2 separate regions of the Homo sapiens genome follow, and region 1 is linked to region 2. Evidence: fine-mapped expression QTL. A gene starts in region 2. The other region holds a variant in brackets. All regions are shown on one strand. Distances are from middle to middle. Region 1 overlaps BSG (basigin (Ok blood group)). Region 2 holds the start of GZMM (granzyme M).

The links. PIP is the estimated chance that this variant, and not a neighbour inherited with it, causes the effect. A credible set is the group of variants that fine-mapping cannot tell apart.
Region 1: its variant is the best candidate, but not a certain one, in a credible set for the expression of GZMM in whole blood (INTERVAL, PIP 0.68).

Annotation. Positions count from the first base shown.
Region 1 is chr19:579,908-585,201 of GRCh38, reverse strand. BSG (basigin (Ok blood group)) reads right to left here. Exons shown (of 9, transcript NM_001728.4): 4 at 4,741-4,823; 5 at 4,420-4,556; 6 at 3,611-3,887; 7 at 2,872-2,896; 8 at 2,620-2,688; 9 at 1,709-2,452. The coding sequence ends at 2,625. Among named protein-coding and RNA genes, the nearest start is that of HCN2, 7.3 kb to the left of the region's middle. RefSeq lists a silencer at 459-728 and enhancers at 701-1,262, 1,263-1,825. The variant T/C (reference allele first, on the strand shown) is at 2,427.
Region 2 is chr19:541,801-547,162 of GRCh38, reverse strand. GZMM (granzyme M) reads right to left here and starts at 3,110. Exons shown (of 5, transcript NM_005317.4): 1 at 3,037-3,110. The coding sequence starts at 3,091. CDC34 (cell division cycle 34, ubiquitin conjugating enzyme) reads right to left here. Exons shown (of 5, transcript NM_004359.2): 5 at 5,076-5,362. RefSeq lists an enhancer at 3,097-3,742.

The DNA of each region.
Region 1 (5,294 bases), 38 kb before region 2:
GGTGTACAAAGCTACATGCTGAGTGGTTATACTTTTGTGAATCAGGTTTACGTTTCTGTGTGCAAAGAAAAAAGATGAAGTTAGTGCCCAGGGGTGAGGGGCTGCTTTCTCGGGCGGACGACCCTGCACGGACCCAGGCGCCCCATCTGCCGGTAAGCACCCCAGGAAACCTGCCCGTCTCCCAAGGCTGCCCTGACCTGTAACTCCCACACCTCCCACCCGGTACAGAGCATGAGGCGTCCACAAGCACGGTGGGCCCACACCTGGGGCTGAGGGTGCGGCAGAAAGATGGACAGAGCCCAGGCAGGGAGGTGGGGGGAGACCTGAGCCAGGGGCCCACCTGGGCCGCGTGCCCGGCGATGTCCCCAACGCGCCCCTTCCCCATCGTCCTGTTGGCAGCCTCCATCCCACTGGACCTTTCTGCCTGTTGTCCACGCACACCCTCCAGCTCCAGGTATACCACAGGCGCCTAATCAATGTCTGCACGCAGACGTGGCATCCCTATTCACAGGTCACTGAGCACACTTTCAGTGGGTGATGCCTGGGACTCTGCGGTCTCAGCCGAGGAGGAGGGGCCGTCAGGCTGCCCGGGCAGAGGGGCTCCAGGGCCTGCCCCACTCAGCGTGGGCGTGCAGCGCCGCCTGGTGGCAGCCGGCAGGGAGGGCCCAGCTGTGGAACCCAGCAGCCCCCACCTAGCAGGGCAGTTGCTGCCAGGGACCCTGAGCCAGCCTCAGATCCTCCAAGGCTGTGCAGCACGAGGACCAGTGGGCAGCTCCGGATGTGGGCCCTGCAAGTCCACCGCTGGCCCAGCAGGATCAGTGCCGGGAGCAGCTGCCGCCCGGGGCCCGTCACCGTGTTTATTCAACTCCCCCTTTGCGTAGCCCTGTGAGGCCGGAGGCCGTGAGCCCTTTCTTGGCTTCCGTGGCATGAAAACGCTGGATTTGCCCAACACGGAAACACACTGCCTTCCCATCTTCCCATCTGATTCCTAGCTTCTCTGGGAACCCACCCAGGCTCCCTAAGCCCCCACTAAGCCTCTTTTGCTGACCTCCACCCTGAGACCCCCGCTCAGACCAGCAGAAGGCCCAGTGCCACACTCGGCCTGCAGGGCTGACACAGCCGCTGCAAACCTCCCTCCAGACCCAGTTACTGGTCCTGCAACTTGCAACCTCCACGCTCTAAGCTCCTGGTCCCCCAAGCTCTCCAGCCCTGCAACCACATCTGTTCCGTGTGCTGGGCGGGCAGGGGCTGGGCATCCCTCAGCCTCTGGGCACCAGCTTCACACACCCACTCTCCAGGAGCAGCCAGGACCACCCCTGAACCTTGCCCAAGCAGCCCGCCCAGGTGGGTGGGTGCAGGCAGCTGCAGGGCAGGCAGCAGAAAGCCTCAGCCTTTGTCAGGCCCAAAACATGCCGAGAGGAGTAACAGGCTCAGAGAAGGCTCAGGTCAGTGCCCACTCTCTTCTGTGTGGCTCTGAGGCACGGGGTCGGCCCCAGCCACCTTCCAAGTTCCCAGTCCGGCTGACAGCCTCAGGCCCTGTCCAGCCCATGCCCCGAGCCACCCAACACCCACTGCGGTCTCAGCAGACCCGTCCTCGCATGTGAAATCCCAGTACTGGACGCACCCCTGCTGTGACCACCAGAGCCCAGGGTGCACCTGCTCTCGGAAAACCCAACCCCGTCAGGCACAGACAGGAGCCAGGAGAGGGTGAGGGTGGAGGTGGGGGCGATCTTTATTGTGGCGGTGGGTGGGAGGGGGGTTCCCACGTGAGCCCTGGTGCTATAGAGAGCCGGCCGTCCTCCAGGGGTGAGCTGGGGAGGCTTCTGCGGTTCTGGAGTCCCGGCGATGGCGCCAGTTCCCCAGCAAACCCCCTCCAGAGCTGCCCCCGGATGCACAGACAAGGAGGGGGCTTGGGAGTGACTTGAGGCTGTGACGGGGTCGCCCTCGGTGTGGGCAAGTGAGTCCTCTGTGGCCAAGAGGTCAGAGTCGTCCCTGAGGCTGAGTCGAACACAGACCCGTGGCCCTCATAAAATTAAACATAAAAGCACAAAAATGGCGCAACCAGACAGCATTGGCTTCAGACAGGCAGGACACGGGGCCCCTCGTGTGACCTGTGACTTTCCACAAAGGGCAAGGACCTGGCACTGACTCCGGCCAGTGGAGAAGGCTGTGCCGCCCACCCGGCCATGACTCAGACCCAGAGGCTGAAAGCCACAGACGGGGCCGCAGGGCAGCAGCTCCCGGGCTCTCGTGAAACACTTCAGAAGGAAAAAAACCTAAGGAACAGAATCCTGAATGGAGAAAACCCAACTTTTTTAAAAAAGAAGGAAGTGTATGATGGGAATCTACGGGGTGGGTTTTCTTTAAGAGGTGAGAACTTGGAATCTTGCAAGCACTGGGAGTGGACTCCGGCGGCGGCGCAGACG[T/C]GGAGCAGGGAGCGTCCTCGGGCCACCTGTGGACAGGGAGGGGCGCTCAGACTGGACCCACCTCCCAGCGACCCACAGGCGGGACCCAGGAGCCCACACCTGGCTAGCAGATCCCGCCCACCACACCTGGCTCAGGAGTTCCCGCCCACCCACCCACCACACCTGGCTCAGGAGGAGCTCCCGCCCACCGCACCTGCCTCAGGAAGAGTTCCTCTGGCGGACGTTCTTGCCTTTGTCATTCTGGTGCTGCCCGCTGCTCTTCCTGGGGCACGAGGGGCCGGGTGAGAGGGTGTCCCCCGCAAGTCACTCTCTCCAAGTCACCCCTGCCCACCCCGGCCCCCAGGACCCCCGAATACTGAAGCCCAGGGGCTCTGCCTTTGTGTTTTAAAGGCCTGGGGCAGCAGGCCGCTCCTTGGGACCCCCGACCCCCACAGCTGGAACTTACAGGGGTGCAGAGCCGGCGTCGTCATCTGAAGAAGGACCGCCGCCATGAAAAAGAGGACGAGAGGACAGCCTGTCAGCACTGGCCCCACTCAGGCCCCGAGCAGGGGCATCTGTGCTGCCAGCCCTGCCCTCAGTGACCCCCAGGGGTGGCTCGGGGCAGCTCATCAGCCCCGGCCACGTGCATCTTCTGAGTGCTGTGGGGAAAGGCAGCCCTCCCCACCTGCAGGTGTGCTCCCCATGGTGAGCTGTCCCCATGGCCTCGTGGGCCTCACCCCTGCCCCACAGCGTTTTCCAGGAGCTGCCATCACAGGCCCCACACAGGCCTCGCCCCGGCACACGCAGCCCAAGGGGCAGAAGGGCTCCGCGAGGAGGCAGGCAGGGGCTGCCGGAGCACAGCATGGCTGACCTCAGGTTCCCGAGCCTGATCATGCAGAGCAGCAAGGGCCGGCTCACCACGGAGGACACTGGCTTGCAGCCAAGTGAGCGGGAGGGAAGGGCCGGGTGAGGCTGTGGGGCGGAGGTGCCGCCTCCTCCTCCCGGGGTCCCGCTGCCCACTGAGCCGCAGCTGCCCGGGGCTAGACCCTCCATCCCACACTTTCTTTCGGGGTCCCATCAACTCCCTGCCTGGGGCTCCTCAGTTCCAAGCTCTGGGTCAGCGGTGGGGCTGGCAGGGACGGACCAGGAGTGGCCCTGGGCCACCCCGAGAGCAGGGCATGTGGGCAGGAGGGCAGACGGCTCACCATCCAGGACGTCCTCGGGCTTCCGGCGCTTCTCGTAGATGAAGATGATGGTGACCAGCACCAGCACCTCAGCCACGATGCCCAGGAAGGGCCAGAGGGCGGCCAGGTGGCTGCGCACGCGGAGCGTGATGATGGCCTGGTCGGAGCCCTTGGAGCTGGTGCCGTTGCACCGGTACTGGCCGGGGTCGGCCTCCATGTTCAGGTTCTCAATGTGTAGCTCTGACCGGCCCTGCGAGGAACTCACGAAGAACCTGCTCTCGGAGCCGTTCATGAGGGCCTAGGGGACCAAAGGCAAGGGCTGAGTCCAGGACCCCCAGTCTAGGCCCCTCACCCAGTCCTGAGGGCTGAGTCCGGGACCCCCAGTCTAGGCCCCTCACCCAGTCCGGAGGGCTGAGTCCGGGACCCCCAGTCTAGGCCCCTCACCCAGTCCGGAGGGCTGGGTCCGGGACCCCCAGTCTAGGCCCCTCACCCAGTCCTGAGGGCTGGGTCCGGGACCCCCAGTCTAGGCCCCTCACCCAGTCTGGAGGGCTGCAGTCCAGAGGGCTGGGTCCGGGACCCCCAGTCTAGGCCCCTCACCCAGTCCGGAGGGCTGGGTCCGGGACCCCCAGTCTAGGCCCCTCACCCAGTCCGGAGGGCTGGGTCCGGGACCCCCAGTCTAGGCCCCTCACCCAGTCCTGAGGGCTGGGTCCGGGACCCCCAGTCTAGGCCCCTCACCCAGTCCTGAGGGCTGGGTCCGGGACCCCCAGTCTAGGCCTCTCACCCAGTCCTGAGGGCTGGGTCCAGGACCCCCAGCCTCCTTGGCTTCTCACCTTGTCCTCAGAGTCAGTGATCTTGTACCAGGCCCAGTCAGTGACAGGTGGCACGGACTCTGACTTGCAGACCAGCATGGCCGTCTCCCCCTCGTTGATGTGTTCTGACGACTTCACAGCCTTCACTCTGGGAGGCCCTGACAGGAGGGTGAGAGAGAGGAGCCTGGAACCGCAGGCCCGCCCCCATCCCCGGCCTCCCGCAGGAGGGCTGTTCCCCTCCAGGGAGCAGGGGGCCAGGGCTCTGGGATGTGCCGGGTGCCTCAGGCCAACAACTTCTCCCGACAGTCGGTGGTGCCCGGTACCCCTGGCTGCAGGACTCACCGTGGAGCTGGATGTTGGCCGTGCCCATGGGCTCGGGGAGGAAGACGCAGGAGTACTCTCCCCACTGGTCGTCGGAGTCCACCCTGCAACCACAGCAGGCAGGTGAGCCGCGTACCAGCTCTGCAGGACGCCTCCAAGGACCCAGGGTTCTCCAGGGGCCCAACCACGGCACAGTGAAAAAGCAAAACTGTCCCAGTCAAGTCTGAACCTCAAAAGAACTCCTGGGGTCCCCGTGCGGCCCCAAGGACAGAGCCAGGCTGGCAAGACCCCACAGGTGAGAGAACCAACAGACCCCCTTCTCCCCGACTGATGAACCCCACACCTCTGGTCCCTGCTCTGCACCCCACACCCTGTGACCGTCTTCCCAGTCAGCCTGAAAACAAAAGGCTCTGTGCTCCCAGGGCCGTCCCAGCCCCAGTTATGACAAAGCTCCGGCCATGACAGCGTCTGGGGTCCGAGCAGGGCATGCCTCAGTGTGGTGCCCTCTTGTGCCAGGAGCACAGAGCCTGGGAGGCCCGCACACGTGCCCGGGACCTGGCAGTGTGGCGCCCTTT
Region 2 (5,362 bases):
GTCCCCAGTGTTCCCCGAAACTTTTAGGCTGATACGTGTGGGCTGCCCTTCATCCCTCCCATCCCCCTCTCATCACCCCCATCATGTTCCCCCCAGGCCACCTCCCAATCCCCTCTCCAGGACCTCCCCAGGCCCCACTGGGCCCCACAGCCACAGGAGTCCTTCAAAACGCACATCAGGCCGGATGTGGGTGGCTCACCCCTGTGATCCCAGCACTTCGGGAGGCTGAGGAGGGAGGATCACTTGAGGCCAGGAGTTCGAGACCAGCCTGGGCGACACAGCAAGACCCAGTCTCTTAAAAAAAACTTTTTTTTTCTTTTTTTTTGAGACAGAGTCTCGCTCTGTCACCCAGGCTGGAGTGCAATGGCACGATCTCGGCTCACTGCAAGCTCCGCCTCCTGGGTTCATGCCATTCTCCTGACTCAGTCTCCCGAGTAGCTGGGACTACAGGCACCTGCCACCACGCCTGGATAATTTTTGTATTTTTAGTACAGATGGGGTTTCACCATGTTAGCCAGGCTGGTCTCGAACTCCTGACCTTGTGATCCACCCATCTCAGCCTCCCAAAGTGCTGGGATTACAGGTATGAGCCACTGCACCTGGCCATTTTTTTTTTTTTTTTGAGATGGAGTCTCACTCTGTTACCCAGCCTGGAATGCAGTGCCGTGATCTCAGCTCACTGCAACCTCTGCCTCCTGGGTTCAAGCGATTCTCCTGCCTCAGCCTCCCGAGTAGCTGGGATTACAGAAGCGCATCACCACGTCCGGCTAATTTTTTTGTATTTTTAGTAGCGACAGGGTTTCGCCGTGTTGGCCAGGCTGGCCTCAAACACCTAACCTCAGGTGATCCACCCTCCTTGGCCTCCCAAAGTGCTGGGATGACAGGCGTGAGCCACTGTGCCCAGCAAGAAATGTAGTCTTTAAATAAGTAAATTGTATAGTGCATAATTTCCTAATAAAGCTGTACAAAAATTATTTTAAATCAATCATAAATATAAAAGGATTGATTTCATAATGTAACGTAAATCAGCTCAAAATCTTCTCTGAATCCCCATCATGCTTTGAAAATCAAGTCCCCGCTTGCGGGCCGGTGCAGTGGCTCACGCCTATAATCCCAGCACTTTGGGAGGTCAAGGTGGGCAGACAGCCTGAGGTCAGGAGTTGGAGATCAGCCTGGCCAATGTGGTAAAACCCCGTCTGTACTAAAAATACAGAAATTAAGGCCGGGTGCGGTGGCTCACGCCTGTAATCCCAGCACTTTGGGAGGCCGAGGCAGGTGGATCACGAGGTCAGGAGATCGAGACCATCCTGGCTAACACGGTGAAACCCCGTCTCTACTAAAAATACAAAAAATTAGCCGGGCGAGGTGGCGGGCATCTGTAATCTCAGCTACTTGGGAGGCTGAGACAGGAGAATCGCTTGAACCCGGGAGGCAGAGGTTGTGGTGAGCCGAGATCGTGCCATTGCACTCCAGCCTGGGCAAGAATAGCAGAACTCCATCTTAAAAAAAAAAAATAGGCCGGGCGCGGTGGCTCACGCCTGTAATCCCAGCGCTTTGGGAGGCCGAGGCAGGCGGATCACCTGAGGTTGGGAGTTTGAGACCAGCCTGACCAACACGGGGAAACCCTGTCTCTACTAAAAATACAAAATTAGCCCGGCATGGTGGCAGGCGCCTGTAATCCCAGCTACTCGGGAGGCTGAGGCAGGAGAATCGCTTGAAACCAGGAGGCGGAGGCTGCAGTGAGCCGAGATGGCACCATCGCACTCCAGCCTGGGTGACAAGAGTGCAAGTCTAGCTGTGCCTGCAAGCTGCCTGCACCCTGGGCCTTTGTCTGTCTCACTTAGCTGCCTGCGTACCTTTCCCCCACCGGCTTCCTCCCTTGGTTTATGCTCGTCTCCTGCAACGGCCCCCCACCCGCCCTCTTGCCCTCCGTGTTTCCTCCGCTCTGCACAGTCTCATGCCTGGCCTGTCTCTTCCAGTCAGACAGGAGGGCAGGCCTAGAACAGCACGAGCCCTGCAAATACGGATGGATACACAGAAGCACGGGAGAAAGGAAGGAGGGATGGAAGGAGGAATGGATGATGGATGGATGGGAGGGAGGAGGGAAGGAGGGGGGAAAGGAAGAGAGAGGCATGATGGATGGATGGGTGGATACATGGAAGGAGGGAGGGAAGGATGACGGGTGGAGGGAAGGAGGGAGGTTGAAAGGAGGGATGGATGATGGATGGACGGGTGGGTGGAAGAATGGGAGGAAGGAGGAATGATGGGTGGATGGACTGGCGGAGGGAAGGAAGGGGGAACGAAAGGAGGGAGGGAGGGATGGATGATGGACCCATGGGTAGAGGGATGGATGATGGATGGGTGGGTGGAAGAATGGAAGGAGGAATGATGGGTGGACGGACGGGTAGAGGGAAGGAAGGGGAGATGAGGGAGGGAGGGAGGGAGGGAGGGAGGGATGATGGACCCATGGGTGGAAGGAAATAAAAATGGGAGGAAGGATGATGATGACTGACGGCTGGATTCCTACCTCTGTCCATCTTCTTGGGTCCCCAACTCATCAAGAGCCCCTGTCACTCAGTCCAGCTGGAATGCAGGGGAGCCGCCACCCACCTCCCTTCTCCCTCACTGCTGGGCACCTAGTCCCAGCCAAGCCCTTGGTGGTGGCAGGCAGCCAGCGGGGATCGAGTCCCAGCTCTGCCCTCCCAGCTGGGCAGTCCTAGGTCAGCATCTCCTTCGCCAAGTCTCAGTCTCCTACTCTGCACCTCGGGTGTGAGCGTGACCCCTGCCTTCTGGCTGCTGCCGGGAGGATGGGCGAGGTGAGCCGGTGGACACCACACTCTCCCACGGTCCCGGGATGTCCACTCGGGGTGAAGCGTGAGGAGCTCGGGATGCCCCAGGCCTCAGTCCCCCTCCAAACAAGGATGAATCTCCGCTCTTACACCCAGGATGTCGGCGCCCGCGCCCACCCCTCCCATCCAGGGACCCACCGAGAGCGCTGGGCCTCAGTGTCCCCCCTGCATCCCGGCTCCCACTCACCTACTGACAGGGCCCCCAGGGCCAGCACCAGCAGTGAAGACACGCAGGCCTCCATGCCGCTGTGGAGACCCAGTGTGGGTGCTGGCCCCGGCCCCGAGCCTCCCCACACGCGCTTCCTGTGGGGGAGGTGAGGTGACGGTCACAGCCCCGCCCACCGCTGCACACCCTCCACCCTCCATCCTTGAGCATTTTAGAAAGTGTTTCTCAAAGAGGACTCGAGATGAAGCCACACTACCATCATCACACCTGACAAAGTAACACTTTTTTTTTTTTTTTTTTTTCAGAGATGGAGTCTCGCTCTGTCGCCCAGGCTGGAGTGCGGTGGTGCGATCTCGGCTCACTGCAAGCTCCGCCTCCCGGGTTCACGCCATACTCCGGCCTCAGCCTCCCGAGTAGTGGGACTACAGGTGCCCACCACCACGCCCGGCTAATTTTCGTATTCTTAGTAGAGACGAGGTTTCACCATGTTGACCAGGCTGGTCTCAAACTCCCGACCTCAGGTGATCCACCCACCTCGGCCTCCCAGTGCTGGGATTACAGGCATGAGCCACCGCGCCCGGCCACTACTTCCTGCCTCTGAATTGGTCTCTAGGGACCTCCCAGGAGTGGAATCACACAGGACCTGTTGCGTTGGCGTCTCTCCCAGCATGACGTCCTCAAGGTGCATCCAGGCTGTGGCCTGTGTCAGAGCCTCGCTCCTTTTTGTGGCTGTGTCACATCCCATTGTGTGGCTGGACCACGCTGTGTTTATGCATTCACCAGCGGACGGATATTTGCGCTGTTCTAGTTTTTGGTCTTCATGAATAAAGACACTGGCCGAAGGCGGTGGCTCACACCTGTAATCCCAGCACTTTGAGAGACTGGGGCAGGAGGATCGCTTGAGCCCAGGTTGGGGCTGCAGTGAGCCGTAATTGCACCACTGCTCTTCAGCCTGGGTGACAGAGCAAGACCCTGTCTCAAAAATAAATAAATTTAGGCCGGGCGCGGCGGCTCACGCCTGTAATCCCAGCACTTTGGGAGGCCGAGGCGGGCGATCACCTGAGGTTGGGAGTTCGAGACCATCCTGGCCAACATGGTGAAACCCCATCTCTACTAAAAATACAAAAATCAGCTGGGCATGGTGGTGGGAGCCTGTAGTCCCAGCTACTCAGGAGGCTGAGGCAGGAGAATCACTTGAACCCAGGAGGCGAGATCGCACCACTGCACTCCAGCCTGGGCAACACAAGACTGTGTCTCAAAAACAAAACCAAACCAAACCAAGCAGCTATGGATGATCCTGAGACCTGGGTGTGGCTGTGCCAGTAACACTTCACTCACAATAGGGGCGGACGCCAGGTTTGGTCCCGAGGGCCATGGTTTGCTGAGACCCCAGGGCCCCATTTTCTGTCCCAACTTGGTGGGAAACCTCATCCTCACAGCTCCTCGACCCTGAATCAGCCACTGAGCGACTTTCCGGGTGCCCAGAAGCGGAACGCAGGCAGGTTCCTGGAAGGCGGTGCCCCGGGAGGGCATGGGAGCTCCGAGCTTTCCTCCATGACATGTAATAAAACGATGCTGGGGACTTCCTGACACCAGGACGTGAGGTGCCTGCCCTGTGTGCCCAGGGCCACGGCTCCCCACCCCGAGGGTGTGCCTGGACGGAGCTGGAGCCGCCGGAGTGCTGATCGGGGGCATCTGTGGTCCTGGGAGCCCTGAGACGCTGAGATCAACGCCCAGGCGGCTGTGGACCCGCGACGAAGCTTTGCTGGATGCCTGCAGAGGCAGCTCCCGTCCCACTAGATGCACCTGGTCACAGGGAGGAGGAACTCTGGGGGCTTTCTGGCCGCCCCTGTCCCGCAGGCTGGGGGATGCTGCCCAGGCCTGTCTGACCCAAGTCATGGGAACGTACAGGCCGCGGGACCCGGCTGCTCCCCGTGCCTCCCAGGACAGGCCTCCCAGATCCACACCTGGCGTAGCCAGGGTCCCAGTGGGACTGGCCGTGTGCAGTCACTCATGGACGTGGAGGCTGCCTCTCCCTCCCAAGCACAGCTTCTCTGGCCTCTCATAAAGTAGTTTTATTTAGATTTCAAACAAACCAAAGCAGGGAAAAGAGTCGGCCACGGTGAATCCGTCCACTCTGTGCTGGACGTGGCTCCAGGACCTGGAGCTGACAGGCAGGACCGGGCCCCTCGGACCGCTACACCTGGGCCTCCCAGGCTGGTAGTGTCAGGAAACGGCCCCCCGCCCACGTTCCCAGCAGCGCCCCCGTGGCTCCTCCGGGGTGCGGCCAGTCCGGAAGCTGGGGGACCCCGGTAGAAGTCGGGCTCAGCTCCCCTCCCGAGGGGAC